Regions from separate parts of the Homo sapiens genome. Here region 1 is linked to region 2. A link means that fine-mapping ties the variant in region 2 to the expression of a gene that starts in the linked region. Tissue or cell type: cerebellum. Region 2 holds a variant in brackets; the other region holds the start of a gene. All regions are shown on one strand. Distances are between the middles of the regions.

Region 1 (8,097 bases), 400 kb before region 2:
CTCTGGCCTTCCCCAGCCCAGCCCGTGGCCGCACAGCGCCCGACAAACAGCAGCCCTGGGTCTACGTCCGCTGCGGGCACGTCCATGGCTACCACGGCTGGGGCTGCCGGCGGGAGCGGGGCCCCCAGGAGCGCGAATGTCCTCTCTGCCGCCTTGTGGGGCCTTATGTGCCTCTATGGCTTGGCCAGGAGGCCGGCCTCTGCCTGGACCCTGGGCCGCCTAGCCATGCCTTTGCACCTTGCGGCCACGTCTGCTCTGAGAAGACTGCCCGCTACTGGGCCCAGACACCACTGCCCCACGGCACCCATGCTTTCCATGCCGCCTGCCCCTTTTGCGGGGCCTGGCTTACCGGCGAGCATGGCTGCGTCCGCCTCATTTTCCAGGGCCCGCTGGATTAGGCTCCCTGGGGCCCCCTGCTGCTGTGCCCACCTGCCCACCCAGGTCCCCACCTCCTGCAGCCCAGAGGGAGCTCTGCATGTGGGACACTCCCTGCTGGCACAGCCACACCAGATGGACATGTTGGATGGGCTGTGCCCTTCCCCCCAACTGTGGCCCCCCAAGGAGGTCCCCAAGATCTCCACCCCAGTCATGCTGATGGGGCCTTCAGCACCAGCTCTGTCCTGGGTCGATGGAGGAAAGCCCAGCCCCATGGCCTTGCCCTTCCTGGGGCATCCCACATCGTGCCGCCGACACTGTGTGCCCCTGGGGGAGTGAAGGGGCCAGGGGCCTTTGACCCCCAGCTTAGGCTGGCTATGCCCTGAGCCTGCCAACCCAGTTTCAGACACTCATCCTTCATCCTTCCTGCTGCCGCCCTGGGTTCCTCTATAAACCTCGCTGCTCAGCTGCCCCCACAAGTCCCACATGCCCCGCATGCGTGCAATGCCTCCAGCCCCCAAGTGAGTGGTGGGTGGGTGGCAGGCTGGGCCTAGCACTTGCTGATAGCCACTATGGGCTCGACTCTGTGCTAAGTGGTATCTGGGGACACAGAGGCAATCAGACCTGGTTCCCCCCCTGGTGGAGTTCACAGTCTAGTGGAGGACAGACTGTTAACAAATGGCAACACGGCTTCATGCGTGCCAGGATCAGAGTACAAATCAGGCTGTGGCAGGCCTCACTGGTAATGGAAAAGTGAGGGAGGCTTCACGGAGGAGGTGTCATAGGAGCTCAGCCTCAACGGCTGCTCGGAACCCTCCGAGTCCACAAGATGGGAAGCAAGTCCACAAGATGGGAAGCGTGCTCTATACAGAAGGGAGGGCCTGTGCACAGGCTCAGGTGTCAGTAAGCCAGAAATCCAGGGACAGAGTCAGGATGGCTGGAGCATGGACTGCGGGGGGAACAGAGAAGGGGGTGGAGCAAAAGGTTGGGACCATGTGACCAGGGAAGATGCTGGATGGAGGATTCTGAACCTCATTTGTGGACGGTCAGGAGTCAACAAAGGGAGGAGAGAGGACTCACTGGTCAAGAGTGTCGGCTGTGACACAAGGGCCATCATCCCTGAATGCCCACCATGTGCCCCGCACTGTGCTGATGATGATAATAATAACTACGTCCATTGAGCACTCTCCAGACACCGGGCTCTGCTTCTTGGAGGTTTTGTTATTTAATCCTCATAGTAACCCAAGAAGGGAGGTGTTGCCATTTTTGTCTCTGAGGAGATGAGGGCAGATGCACCAAGTCACACAACTAGAAAGTGGCCAAGCCAGGATTTGAATCCACAGCTGCTCCTCTCCATCACAGTGTTGCTTTCCTTCAACAGAGGTGGGGGTGAACCAAGCAGGGTTTTGGATACTAGATTGGTGGACACCCACCTGCTTCGTGCCCAGCCCTGCGCAGGGCCCCTGCAGTGGGCAAGGCCGGGCCTCTTGCAGCCCATGGTCTGCAGAGGGACCTACCCGTGCTTGTGTTGGAAGCTGGCCCCCACACCTGTGCTGGCCACCTGTACCCCAGGCCAGGATGCAGTGGGCTATTAGCCAGGCTGGAAGTGTTCAGAGGAGTGAGAACCAGGGGCTCTAGAAGGCCCAGGGAGGACCTGGAGCCTGAGCCAAGTCTTGAATGGCAGAGCATCTCCAGAGGCAGAGAGGAGTTGGGAGGGCAGCCCAGGTGAGGGGAACAGCATGGTGTGGCAGGGAACATGCCTGGTGTGGAGGGGGGCAGCAAAAAGGAATGGGGGGTAGGGAAGGTTGCTGGGGCCTGGTGGGCCTTGATTGCCATGGAAGCCAAGCCTGAACTGGATTCCTATTCATCCTGGCCACAGGTGGGCGTGTTGCTGGGGTTGCCCCAGACCATTCCTGCAGGGAGCGAGCCAGGAAGACAGGCAGACGGCTGTTCTGGAGATGAAGAGAAGAAGGCTCTGAGTATAGGCCTGACCTGGGCATCGTCCCCAATAGATGACAGAGCCTAGGGAAGTACAGATTCCAAGGGGAGGGATGGACCTGACCAAGGCCACACAGCTGGTTGCGGCCAGGGAGATCAGACCTGGGTTATTGAGAAGACAGAGGGCACCCGAATGTGATGAGAGAAGGAGGAGGGTGTGATCAGATTCTTGCTTCCAGAGCATGGCACTGCTGCAGTGGGGGTGAAGGGGAGGGTGGGGATGCTGCAGGAGGTGTGGGAGCATTCCAACTTCTCTCCCCTCAACATACACACAACACACAAAGCACTCAAAATCCAACTCTTCCAAGTTCTCTCTTCTGACCCTGTTGGGAACCAGGCAGGGGAACATTCTGATCCCATTTCCAGTGGGGAACCTCAGACCCTAGGAGGAAAGACCAGCAAAGGGCACCACAGTAGATGCTGGGGAGGATTCAGAGGTATTGGTGGAGGAGGTCAGAGCCCTGGTCTTGTCCCAGCTCTGCCTTTGCCAGCTGTTAGAGCCTCAGTTTCCTCAGTGCTAAAGGGGATAACAGTCACTACCTCGCCAGGTGGTTGTGAATATACAGAGAGCACCTGTAACACAGTTGATTCGTAACTGTTGCTCCTCACCGACCCCTTTTGCATTCCCATGGGGAAGAGCCAAGGCTGGGGAGTTATGACTCCAGTGATAGACTGCTCCATGTGAGTGACTGTGTGTGTGTATCTCTATGTTGGGGCCAGGGATATCTGAACTGTGTGGTGTTATAGGAGTCGGCGAACCTCTTAGCCTCAGTTTCCCTATCTGTACAATGGGTAAAGTGATCATACCTCAGGATTTTTGCAAGAATTAAATGAGGTCCTCCATGCCAAACTGCTAGCAAGGGACCTCAGTATATGCTCATCTTATCTGTGATCATAAAAATGTGATCACGTAGCTGGTTGGGGGGTCCTGAGAGCACTGGGGTCTTTTCCTTGCCTGAGCTGCCCCCTGCTGGCAGTGGGCAGCACTACCTCCCTTACCTGTGCACATTTCAACTTCACCTGTCAGCCAACTTTATACCCATTTTAAAGACAATGAAAACGGAGGCACAGGAAAGAAGAGGGGTGACTTTCCTAAGGACACCGACCAACTTGTTGAACTCCCCCATATAACAAGTAATCATCAAAGCTAACAGCTTGTAACACTGTTGTGTCAAGCAGGGCCTTGGGCACCTTTGTGGATGAGAAACTGGTGTCTATGGTAAGCAGAGGCTGTCTGGCCTAGACACGGGCGTAGCAAGGAGACCGTGCGGGATTTCAGTACCCAAACGCCCCTCACCCTGCGCAACTATAGGGAGCGGCACTGCAGTCAACACATCACAACTTACAATATCCCTTGGATTGGATTCAATTATTAGCCTGGTTTTCCGGTTCATAAAGCCAAGACTCCCAGACAACCTCACTCCACCCCCCAGTCTGACCCTGGGCCCTCACCACTACTCCCCATTTGGCCTAGGCCCTTCCGCATGCCCCACCCAGACCGTGGTCCCGTGAGTCCGTCCAGACCTGTAAAAGTGGACCGCGGGCCCGCCTCTGCTCTGGACTCCCTTTCGGGGCCGCAGGAGGCTTTCTCATCCATCAGGCATCTGGCAAGCACCAGGAAACTACCAGCCTGTTTGTGCTAAGGAAACTGAGGCTCGGGAATGTTTAGCGGCTCCTTCCAGGCCCGTGGCGGGTGGGTGGTGGTACAGTGAAGCAGTCGAGGCGTTTCTCCGCGCCCCTACACGGGTGGGACCACCTCAGCCCTGGCCCGATCCCACTCAACCGTAGCCCCGATTCCCGGCACCGAGAGCTTTGCAACTTCCAAGTCTCCACCCCCAGGTCCCGAGTCCCGAGAGGAAGGTGGAGCCACATTACTCCTATTGTGTAGGTTCCCACCTGCAAGAGTGCTGTCGGGTCCTCTGAGGTGAAACCCCAAAGGAAAGCGGGATCGGGACTGGGGGAGGGGGATTCCCAAGTCCCTGACACCCGCGCCGTCTCGGCCTGGGCTTGGTGACCTCGTCAGTCCCGTCTGCCGGGACTAGGCCGCGGCCAGGCCGGGCACAGCGGTACCCGGTCCGGCGCGTGTGCGGCCTGCTGACAAAAGGCCGAGCCCGCAGGGCCAATCCGCGCGCCACCCCGTAGCGCCTGGGGGCGGGAGCGGGCGAGCCGAGAAGCTCGTCTTGGCGCGTCTATTGGCTGGTACTGACGCCCATCCGGACCCCGAGGCCAGGCAGTTGGCCAAGGGGGGCGGGGTTCGCAGAGCCCCAATGAATGGGGGAGCCGGAAGCAGGAAGTGAGTTTGCGAACGGAGCAGCTGCTGCAGGTGAGGCGCGGCGCCTGGGCTTTTGGGGTCAAAGCGTGTCATCCCGGGGGACCAAGGCGAATCCATACTGAGCGCAAAATCGTTCCCTTTCTGCCCACTCTCCAGTACCCCCTCCAAATTCACCCCGCCCTCGAGGCCAAGGAGTGCTCCGGGGAGCAAAGAGTTAACAGCCCTTTCCGAACCTCGAGGCTGTGCTATTGGGGCGGGGCTTCTGGAGGCCGGGGCAGGGCGAGGAGGCTGGACACTCTGTCCCAGCCGGGACGGGGCGTGGCGGGGAGAATGCCCCGGGTTGGGGAATCCCCGGGTTCCAACGGGGCTGTCAGACCTTCAGTAAATTGTTGCCCTTTCCAAGCCTCAGTTTCCCTATCTGTAAAATGGGCTTTCTTCTGGTTGTGAACTTCTGTGGCTTCCCTGGTGGAGCACAGGGAGCGAGCAGGAGAATGGAGGGCCAAGGAAAAGGCATTTAGAGGGATGAGAATGGGACAGTTTCAAGCAAAATCATTTATTGCTGTGGATACTTTCCGTCCAGGGCGACTTCATCTGATTAGCGCACCCACCTGGTAATATTGGGGTTATTCTCTCTTTTATAGAGGAGGAAACGGAGGTACAGAAAAGTGAAGCAATGGACTTGACTTTTAGGAGTCTGGGGCCGAGTCCTGGCTAAAGGCTGAGCCTTCCAGCTGGCGGCCTGGCACTTTATCCTTGTGAGCACAGTGGAAAGTGTAAAGAATTCTGAACAAAGGCCAGGCGCGGTGGCTCACGCCTGTAATCCCAGCACTTTGGGAGGCCAAGGCAAGCAGATCGCTTGAGGCCAGGAGTTCGAGACCAGCCTGGACAAAATAGCGAGACCCCGTCTCTATCAAAAATACAAAAAATTAGCTGGGCATGGTGATGCACGCCTGTAGTCCCAACTACTTTGGAGGCTGAGGCAGGAGAATCGCTTGAACCCGGGAGGCGGAGGTTGCAGTGAGTCAAGATCATGCCACTGCACTCCAGCCTGGGCAACTAAGTGAGACTCCGTCTTAAAAAAATAATACTGAACAAGGAAGCAGGGAGGGGCCTGGGCTGGGAGCCTAGAGATGAGGATCTCTGCTGCTGATGTCTCCATTGTGGGATTAGGCAAGGCTCTTAGCCTCTCTGAACCTCAGTTTCCCCATCTGTAATACTAGGTAGTTAGAGTCAATCAATTTTTTTTTTTTTGAGGTGGAGTCTCACTCTGTTGCCCAGGCTGGAGTGCAATGGTGCGGTCTCAGCTCACTGCAGCCTCCACCTCCTGGGTTCAAGTGATTCTCCTGCCTCAGCCTTCCCAGTAGCTGAGATTACAGGTGCCTGGCACCAAGCCTGGCTAATTTTTGTATTTTTAGTAGAAAGGAGGTTTCACCATGTTGGTCAGGCTGGTCTTGAACTCTTGACCTCAGGTGATCCACACACCTCGGCCTCCCAAAGTGCTGGGATTACAGGTGTGAGCCACCATGCCTGACCTTAGAGTCAATCTTTAAGGTTTAGGGACTACAGACCAAATATGGTCCACCAGTGTATTTTGTGACCCCTTGGGTGAGTCATCTCACCTTCTCTAAGCCTCAGTTAGCATATCTGGTGAATGGGTACAATAGTATTCCCTTCCACATGGGCTTTTGGGAGGATTAAATGAGATCATAAGAGTTCAGAGCCAGGTATGCAATTGGTATGGGGTAAACAACAGCTGTGATGACAGTGATGGTTCTCAGCAGGGCCCATGGCGGACACCCAGTACATCCTGCCCAATGACATCGGCGTGTCTAGCCTGGACTGCCGTGAGGCCTTCCGCCTGCTGTCACCCACAGAGCGCCTCTATGCCTACCACCTGTCCCGTGCCGCCTGGTACGGAGGCCTGGCTGTGCTGCTTCAGACCTCCCCTGAGGCCCCCTACATCTATGCTCTGCTCAGCCGCCTCTTCCGCGCCCAGGACCCCGACCAGCTGCGCCAACATGCCCTGGCTGAAGGCCTTACCGAGGAGGAGTATCAGGTCAGTTCTCTTGGGCCAACCCACATTACCTGAGTGGCTTCTGGGTGTGAAAGACCAGGATGCAAATGTCTGTCTCTTTCAAGGGGTAGGTGGAGGATTAGACCAAAGGTTACAAATTCAGGCACTTCCCCTCTCTGGAGCCTCAGTCTTCTCACCCGTAAAATATGCATGTGGGATGTCTGTACCTCTTAGTGTTGTGATGACCCACTTAGAACAGTGCCTGACTTCAAGATAAATGATGGCTGCTGTGATTATAACAAAAGAAACTGTGGTGGAGATTCAGGGAAGGCAGAAGAAGGAGTCCAGAGTAGGTATCAGGAGGTCTGAGTTCAGGACCAGTTCTTCTCTACCACACTGTGTGGCCCTGGGCAGAATGTTCTGCCTGTCCCTTGGTTTTTGTTTTTGGATGTATTGGCCAAGTAATACACAAATTCTTAGTGCATTGCAGCAATGCAGAAAGACACAAAAGAAAACACAAAGATCACTCATTCTCAGTGCCCTCCTCAGAGGTAACCCACTGAGGCTGATACAGCCTTTTCTTTCTCTCTCTTTTTTATTTTTTATTTTTTTTTTGTGACAGAGTCTCATTCTGTCACCCAGGCTGGAGTGCAGTGGCGTAATGTTGGCCCACTGCAAACCTCCACCTCCCAGGTTCAAGCACTTCTCATGCCTCAGCCTCCCAAGTAGCTGGAACTACAGGTATGTGCCACCACACCGGGCTAATTTTTGTATTTTTAGTACAGGTGGGTTTTCACCATGTTGCCCAGTCTGGTCTTGAACTCCTGGCCTCAAGTGATCCACTTGCCTTAGCCTCCCAAAGTGCTGGGATTACAGGCGTGAACCATCGTGCCCAGCCTTGGTTACAGCCTTTTCAATCCCATCTGTGTATTACATACATTTATGTGTATATGCATGGTGAATCAGTTCCTTATTTTCTTTTTTATAGAAATGAGATAATGTTCTTTTCCTGCTTTGTGTCCTGCTTTTTCCATTGAATGCCATGTCTTGAAGAACTTGGAGAATGGGGTACATTTAAATGTACCTCATTCTTTTTTATTGACTGTAAAGCATTCCACAGCAGTGTACACTATAATCAATTTAATCTTCATTACTGGACATTTAGCTTGTCCCGTTTTTCTTACAAACAGTGCCATGGTGAGCATACTTGTGCACACATGTGAGGAGGATCTATTTCTAGAAGAACTGCTGGGTCAAAGGCTCTGTACATTTACAATTGACTGATTCTGTTAAATCATCTTCTAAAAAAGCTTCACTGCATTATATTCCCACCAAGAATGTACAAGAATATGGCCTGTTTTTCTATATGTGAAATAAAGGGATTGGATTGTTTCTCTCTGAGCTGATGTACTGTTTATTCTACCTCTTTTGAACTTTG
Region 2 (8,099 bases):
GACTAAAAAGACAGCTGCCCAGCACAGAGCCCAAGCCAAACCAGACACACTCTTTTCACCCCTGCATCTGGGCCTCATCTAACCATCTGATTCATTTCTTTCTTTTGAGACGGAGTCTCGCTCTTGTTGCCCAGGCTGGAGTGCAATGGCATGATCTCTGCTCACTGTAACCTCTGCCTCCCAGGTTCAGGCAATTCTCCTGCCTCAGCCTCCCAAGTAGCTGGGATTATAGGCATGCACCACCATGCCTGGCTAATTTTGTTTTTGTTTTGTTTCTTTTCTTTTTTCTTTTTTTTTTTGAGACAGAGTCTTGCTCTGTCACCCAGGCTGGAGCGCAATGGTGCGATCTCGGCTCACTGCAACCTCCGCCTCCTGGGTTCGAGTGATTCTCCTGCCTCAGCCTCCCGAGTAGCTGGAATTACAGGCACCCGCCACCACGCCCAGCTAATTTTTGTATTTTTAGTAGAGACAGGGTTTCACCATCTTGGCCAGGCTGGCCTCGACCTCCTGACCTCAGGCGATCCACCTGCCTTGGCCTCCCAAAGTGCTGGGATTACAGGTGTGAACCACCACGCCTGGCTGTATTTTAAATAAAGATGGGGTTTCACCATGTTGGCCAGGCTGGTCTTGAACTCCTGACCTCAAGTGGTCTACCCGCCTCGGCCTCACAAAGTGCTAGCATTACAGGTGTGAGCCACCACACCCGGCCGATCTGATTCATTTCTTAGAAAACGTTTAAAACACTTGACTCAGCCATTTTGTTTTAAGTAAGGAACATAAAAACATACTCAAGAAATGAAACAAATATTGCAAAAACCTTAGTGCCATATTACAGCCAACAACCTAGAAAAGGGGAAATAAAGACAGAAGAAAAAGAAAAGAGAAGAAACAAGGAAATAAGTAGAAGAAAGAGAAGAGGAGGAGGAGGAAAGACCCACAGCCAGGGGAGAAAAACAGAAAACCCCACTAGGGGCAGACCTTATGCCAGGCACAGTTCTAAGCCTTAGGAGTCGAGAACACAACAGTGAAGGGTTCTGCTCATGGAAGATGAATGGCAGTGAAAGGAGCAAAGAAAAGAAAAACAAGACACAAATCAGAACATTTCAGATCACAAGTGCCTGGAAGATAAGAAACAGGTGACATTTTGCGAATGATCTGGGGCGGGTGCAGGGGTTTGGGGGCTGGATATTAGAAAAGGCCTCTCTGAGGAGGGGACACAGAAGCTGGGACCTGGATGGGGAGAAGTCGGCCACGCACAGATCCGCAGAGAAAGCTCCAGGAAGAAGGGATAGCAATTGTGAAGTTCTCAGGAAGAACAGGCTTGGTGCTGTCCTGAGAGAGGGAAGTGTGAGCCCACGGCCTGAGGTGGGGCTGCAGCCACAGACAGGGCCCAGTGGTTGAGGCCTCCCTTCAGCCATGGACAGGACAGGAGGGACATGATCGATGCACAGTGGAAAGGATCTCTCTGGACTGGCGAGCAGCAGGGGCTGACAGACGACGCATGTCTGGGGCAATTCAGAGGCTGAGCTGAGAGACGCGGAGCCTCTGACAGGGGGAAGCTATGGGGGTCGGGGTGGGGCTTAGGAAACATCTGGGCTATGACAGACAAGATTCGTCGAGAGACCCCCCATAGAAAGCAAGGTAGAGGAAGAAATCCTGTATGGGTGGGTGGAGATGACTTTTCCTGCTATAAGAAGGGCAAGACAGAAAAGGCAGGGCTGGGAGTGAGGCAAGCTCACAGAGGGGGAAGAGCAGGGACAAGAACCTGGGCAGCATCACAGGGGCGGTGGTGTCTGAAGCCAGGGAGAGAACAGCCTGGGAGAAGTGGGTCAGGCCTGCGTCTTCAGGCCCACTGGAGTTGAGTCTGGCCGAGGAGGAAGAGCCAAGAAGGAGCCCAGGGGGGATGCCTGGAGGAGGGAGGGACGCACGGGTCGCTGGGCAGAAGCGAGCGGCTCTCAGGAGGATGGGGCGCGAGTTGGGCAGAGCATGACTCCCAGAGGCAGGGTAAGATGGGGGCTGGGAAGGGGCCACTGCGGTGACCAGGAGGCACCCAGGTCACACCCGGCTATGGTGAACGTGGGTAGAGTAACCTTGCTGGACTCTGGGCTCCTCCTCTTTCTAAAATATACCTTGTCCTTATTCATTGCACAGTGGAGAAACCTGGCGGACACCACGCTGACCGAGAGATGAAGGTTAATATCACTAGCACCGAAGGGATACCACACACCTCCTGATGGGGTTCCCGCTGCCGTGCACGGCCTGAATTTAATCAGGAGAAAGCAAGGGGCAAACTCAAATTCAGGGAAATTCCACAGAATAACTGGCTTGGACTCTTCAAACATGTCAAAGGTCGTGAGAGACAAAGACGCAAGAACGGTTTCAGATGAAAGGAGACCAAAGCAACAATGGTGAGAGCCACACACGATCCTGGATTGGATCCGGGTTTCTATTGCTAAGAGGACATCAGGGGACAACGATACAATTTAAATAAGGTCTGCAGGTTTGAAAGAGGATTGCGTTGATATCAATTTCCTGATCTTGATCAGTGGACTGTGGTTATGTTAGAGAACAGCCTCATTCTTAGGGAAAAACACTGAGGAACTCAAGGGTCCACGAGCACCACATCTGCAATTTACACCCACTCACATGGTTCAGGGAAAAACGGGAACAATGAAGCAAATGCTAGTATTGGGGGAACTGGGGTCAGGGGTACGAGAATTCTTTGTCTTACTCTTGCAACTTTACTGAAAGTCTGAAATCATTTCAAATTGACAAGTGAAAAGAACCATACCCACCGCTAATGCCGCTGGAGGAGATAACCTTAGGGAGTGCATGCCCCAGCACCTGCTGCTCAAGAGGTGCCGGGAGCACCAGCGAGGAGCTCAGGTGTGGAGACACCCTGCTCAGAGCAGGATGAACGTCAGACGTTATCACCCTGCTATCTCCCACATGCAGATCTACAATCCTCTAAGCCCTGCTCCAGGCGAGTTATCGGATGCTGCCCACTAGGAGGACAGGTCTTTCCCAGCTGGGAGCAGGCGGCACTGGCATCAGAGAGCAGGTGTGGGGTGTAAATCTCACCCTCCTCCTGGGCACCAAATGTCTACTCTGCTGAGCGCTGGGAAAGGCCATGTCAAAAGAGCTCAAGTTACCACATAGGGCAAAGTCAGGAAGAGGCGAGGGGAGCCTTCGGGACAAGCACAGCAACAAGACAGCAAACACAAGTGGCTCTTGAACCCACGAGAAAGCAAGAGATTCAAAATACAACCATGAGGTGCCACTCCTGCCTGGGAGCTTTGTAAATGCAGTGCTGAGCGCCAGGAAGGCCTTCAGGAGGCGGCCCGCAGGCACTGCTGAGCATCACGGCAGCTTCTCCGGGAAGCTGTTTGCAAAACTTATCAAGAGCCTTTAAGGTATTTATGCCCGGCCAGGCGCGGTGGCTCACGCCTGTAATCCCAGCACTTTGGGACGCTGAGACAGGCGGATCATTTGAGGTCACGAATTCAAAACCACCCTGGCCAACATGGTGAATCCCCGTCTCTACTAAAAGTACAAAAATTAGCCCAGCATGATAGTGGGCGCCTATAGTCCCAGCTACTCGGGAGGCTGAGGCAGGAGAGTTGCTTGAGCCTGTGAGGCGGAAGTTGCAGTGAGCCGAGATCGCGCCATTGCATTCCAGCCTGGGTGATAGAGCGAGACTCCATCTCAAAAACAAAACAAAACAAAAAAAGCCGGGCACAGTGGCTGACGCCTGTAATCCCAACACTTTGGGAGGCCAGGGCGGGTGCATCACGAGGTCAGGAGATGGAGACCATCCTGGCTAACACGGTGAAACCCCATCTCTACTAAAAAATACAAAAAAATTAGCTAGGCATGGTGGCGGGTTATGCCCCTGAGCCCAGTCATTACTATTCCAGAAATCCAACCCCAGGAAATATTCCAAAATGGGAACCAAGATGTACGCAGAAAGATGTTCAAAGCAGCATTATTTACAACAGAAAATCATGAGAAGCAATTTAAAGATTCCACACCCTGGCTCCCACAGACATTATGTAACCATTAACAATAATGTGTTTGCACAGGTTTTGATGACATGGGAAATGCTTGTGATGTAATGTGAAGCCAAGAAAATTTAATGGTAAACAACATGATCTCATGAAGTTTTTTTAAAGGAATGGCAACAACTGTAGGACTGCTTGCATGCCACCCTCCTCACTCCCACGTGCTATGGAATTGCTGTAGAGTTGTGTTTTCCTCCTTCTTTATGCTTTTCTATATTTCCATATGGAAAATTTCCATATTTTCTCCATTGGGGATGCGTTATTTATAATTAGAAAAAAAAGAAGAAATATACAGAAGGGACAGGAAGAGCTCCGCAGGAAAAGGCGAAGGGAGCTCCTGCTACACCGACTCCTTGGGTGGGAGGACTTGGCTATGTGTCTCCCAGGAGCCTAGCACCCTCCCCCTCCTCACCTGCTGGCCTGCCTATAGGTGAGCAGCCTCACAGCTGGCAGCAGCCCACTGGCACCGAGATTCTCAAACCTCCAGGGCAGTTTCAAGCTTTTTCCAGGGAGCCCCAGTCCTTTCCTCCCACCTGGGTGGGTTTACCCTGCGACCACAGGGGCACTTACC[C/T]GTGGTTTGTGGGTAAACAGGTCATTTTTGTTGCTCTCCTCCCCTGTCCACACCACACTCACTCCCCACTGCCTTTTCCATGCAAAGAAAGAGATTTCCTCAGAAGATATGCCAAAGGCCGGTCACCTCCAGAGCCTCTGGAAGGCTGCACCCTGCCCCACAGCGTGGCCACCAAGTGTCTGCTTAGCTCAGGCAGGAAAATGATGGAGTGCTGACATGTTGCCGCCCCCTCGGCGGCCCCTCTCACATACATTCTTGCATTGGATCCTCATTTTTTCTTGGTGGGTAAAGGATTCCTTAGCAGTCCCACTCCACCAAGAGCCGGAGGCTGTGGGCAGCGGGGGGCACAGGAATGCCTCCGTGAGTCCTTGTGTCCCTCAGAGGGAAGCGAAAGCAGGCCTAGACTTGAGGCCAAGAGGACTGTCCCCGGGGCACGGGAGCTCTTTGGGTGGCAGCATGCCAGGCAGATGTTTATGGAAGGGAAAAGATCAGGGCTCTTCGGCTGAAGTCAGAGCAGGGAAAAGTGGAACAGAGAGTAGCCTCCTCTGGGGCACAGCCCAGCGCAGGCCCACAGTCCACTGGCCGGGGGCTGCCCCAGCTCCATGGTTTGGGCACCTCTGAGGCCCCAGCTTTCACATCTGTAAAACGGGGTTCCACCAGCCCACCCTAAGCAGGTCATCCTGGGGGTCGACTGAGACAGTACAGCTAAAGCGCCATGCCTGGGTGACAAACATCAGCTGCTGTCACTATCTTCCCAACTCCCTCCCCTCCCAGATGAACAGAGGGCCAGGGAGGAAGCCCCCGGCCCCACACAGCTGGAAGGCCCACACACTTGCGCCCTCCCACTCGCACCATGATGCAGCTCCATGCTGACCTCCCCACAGGCCAGGCCGTCCTGGGGTGAAGGCAGCACAGGCAGCCCACCCACCAAGCCAGGCTGACCATGCACCCAATGCTTAGCAGAGTTCACTGCATAGGGGAGCCAGCAGGTGTGATGCCCACATACACTTGGAGCAAACACACAGGCCCGAGGACACCACGTGCTTTTGCCAATGCAGAAACCTGTCCCCAACATTCCTCTGCAAAGGAAGACCCACCCCAAACAAAAGTAGTTGGGAGTGTCAGGTGTTGCAGAGAGGGGGGCACCTGTCCCAGAGCACTCACCCTGTACCGGCCTTCAGTGCACAGAGGAGGGTGTCTGAGGAGCCACAGACAGCTGCTCTTCTGCCTGAGGTTACTGGCCCAGAATACAAAGTTCCCCAACACAAGGCTGCTGGAGGCCTGGGCTGCAATCAGGGGAAGGGGCAGCAGTGAGCCTAGAGGCTGTGAACCTGAGGCCTAGAAGCTGGCATGGGCCGCTGGCTGCAGGGAGGCGGGAGGTTGGGTCACGCAGAGAGTAGCTGATCCACAGCCCACAGCCTGCTCCCTCGGCCCCCTAGGGACCTGGCAAGATGATGAGGGAGGTGGTCTGAGACAGGAGGCAGTCAGAGACGGGAGGGCAGGTTTCTGTGATGGATTTGGGATGTGCTGCCGAGTGAGGCGGAAGACACGGAAATGTTGGCCAGCAGGCAGTGTGGGGCTGGGGAAGGCTGTCAGGAGCTGCTGTGAATGACGGAGGGTGAGGGCTGCACTGCTCCTTAGAACCTAGTTATGGCCCTGAAACTAAGCTCACCGCTGTGGTCACACAAGACCCCCACCACCAACCTGTCTCTCCCTGACCCGCACACAATGCCAGGCACGGATGGGGCCCAACAGACATAAAGATGAACTGAAACACCACTGCATTCCCAGGGCGCCTGCACCCTTCCTAGAACTTGGTTAACCCAGTTTTTCCTTATCGAATGGCACTGCCTTCCCAGATCTGAAACCCAGGCCTTTCCAGAATCAACATCGGCTGGGAGAAACCGCACTGTAAGATGGGCGTGGCCCCCTCACACCACCCTCTCTCCAGGAAGCAGGGTCTTCAAGGTTATGGTGGAATAAGCCGACTCTGGGTATGCTGAGCTTGAGGGGTCTGGGATGGTTCAAAGGGAGGAGCTGGGTGGGCAGACTCCCCCTGCTCCCCAATACTAGACCATTCCCCAAAGCCGAAGGGAGCAGGGGCCTCTGCACAGCACTTGGGGTATAGAAGAAGGAACCCCTGCAGCTGGAGGCACCTATGGTGACCCTCGGAAGTGGCAGCAGAGGGTGGGAGACGGCCTTCCTGAGACCCCCAGAAGCCTTGCCTCTGGTATTAATGACACTCCCGGTCCTCAGGCTGTACGAAACCAAGCCCAGACACTGGAGTATGCCAGCCTTTCAACTCACAATGGCACATTCCCAGCAAGTGCCACCAGTCTGCAGCCCTTCTGGCTGGCACCATTCCAGGCACTTCCTGCCATCTTCACAGCACGGCACAGAATAGGCGATGGCCAGGCACAGGAAGCAGGGGGCAGCAATGGCTGGGGCCAGGCTCCCTCTGCGGTCCCATGCTGCAGTCCCATGCTGCAGTCCCATGCTGCACCCTGCTTTTGGGTATTTGGTTGGTGGATGGCAATCAAGAAGTTCTCAAGGTTGTCAAGTTTGGCTGAGAAGCTTCCCTGGAAATGCAGAGGGCTTTACTAACAGAACCCACAGAGCCGTTTCCTGCTCCCTCGAGCTGAGCCGCAACTCTTCAAGGGAGGCTGCTAGAGCCCCAGGTGTGAAGGGCATTCTGGGATGCTGCCAGGGCCAGCAACCAGCTCAGGTTACAGTTACACGCCTCGGGGGATGCCACTGTCTTGCTTGCTCCTGGTGATACACACAAGCAAAGCTCTCCCTTTCTGACCTCAGAAATGGGGAAACAGTAGTGAGTGAGTGAGAGAAAAGCAACCACCATCACCCAAAGATCCTTCACCCTGTTTTCCTCTCCAGAGAGCTGACAGCCCAGAGACCCACTTGCTATTTTCTGCAAATGCCAGCTGACAGATCCCTTTTCTTGGCCTCGGGTTGTGCATAAGAGACCAAGAAATAAGACAGCTTTGACTGTCACTTGGGACGTGTAAATAACTCCTTGCAAGCAAGAATGAGCCACAGTGAAGCCAGTAGTGTGTGGGGCACCTGCTTCCTCCCCTGCTGCCTCTCGGGTGACTCCACAGCTTCCATTTCCCTCCCAGCTTCAGCTTCAGATCAATAACTCAGCATTCCCCTTCCAGAAGGGAGTCAGGAAGGCACCTACGACGACCTGCAGGCTGAGGCAGGGCGAGGGCCTGGCCGTCACCTGCCCCGCTCCTGACAGAGCTGCCGCTTCCATAGCACACAACACATACTCACTGAGCTCCACCTGGTGCCCGGCCAGTGCCAGTGGAGGAGGGCACAATGGTGGGCAGTGACCCCAGCAGAGCCTTGCTCCTTGCCAGGCAGGGGCCACTGTGGCTCTTCACGCAGACTCACTCAGTAACCCTCACAGCCCCTCATCACCTCCCTGTACAGGTAAGGGACCAGGTGCA

Which allele goes with the higher level. Positions count from the first base shown, and alleles are read on the strand shown. Sizes are in standard deviations (SD) of each study's normalised expression.
With allele C in place of T in region 2, the expression in cerebellum of the gene that starts at base 4,480 in region 1 is lower (moderate effect, 0.57 SD a copy in GTEx).

Evidence for each region. PIP is the estimated chance that this variant, and not a neighbour inherited with it, causes the effect.
Region 1: it holds the start of DPP3-DT, and the variant in region 2 is fine-mapped to the expression of DPP3-DT in cerebellum (GTEx, PIP 0.97).

Annotation. Positions count from the first base shown.
Region 1 is chr11:66,475,770-66,483,866 of GRCh38, forward strand. It overlaps DPP3-DT (DPP3 divergent transcript), which reads right to left and starts at 4,480. Exons shown (of 4, transcript NR_120586.1): 1 at 4,270-4,480. It overlaps PELI3 (pellino E3 ubiquitin protein ligase family member 3), which reads left to right. Exons shown (of 8, transcript NM_145065.3): 8 at 1-1,568. The coding sequence ends at 398. DPP3 (dipeptidyl peptidase 3) reads left to right here and starts at 4,665. Exons shown (of 18, transcript NM_130443.4): 1 at 4,665-4,696; 2 at 6,424-6,701. The coding sequence starts at 6,432. RefSeq lists enhancers at 501-1,321, 1,959-2,552, 3,491-4,058, 4,635-4,804 and a silencer at 4,445-4,494.
Region 2 is chr11:66,873,679-66,881,777 of GRCh38, forward strand. All of the region lies in intron 3 of PC (pyruvate carboxylase), which reads right to left. Among named protein-coding and RNA genes, the nearest start is that of LRFN4, 21 kb to the left of the region's middle. RefSeq lists enhancers at 2,875-3,375, 3,376-3,876, 4,603-5,341. The variant C/T (reference allele first, on the strand shown) is at 4,633.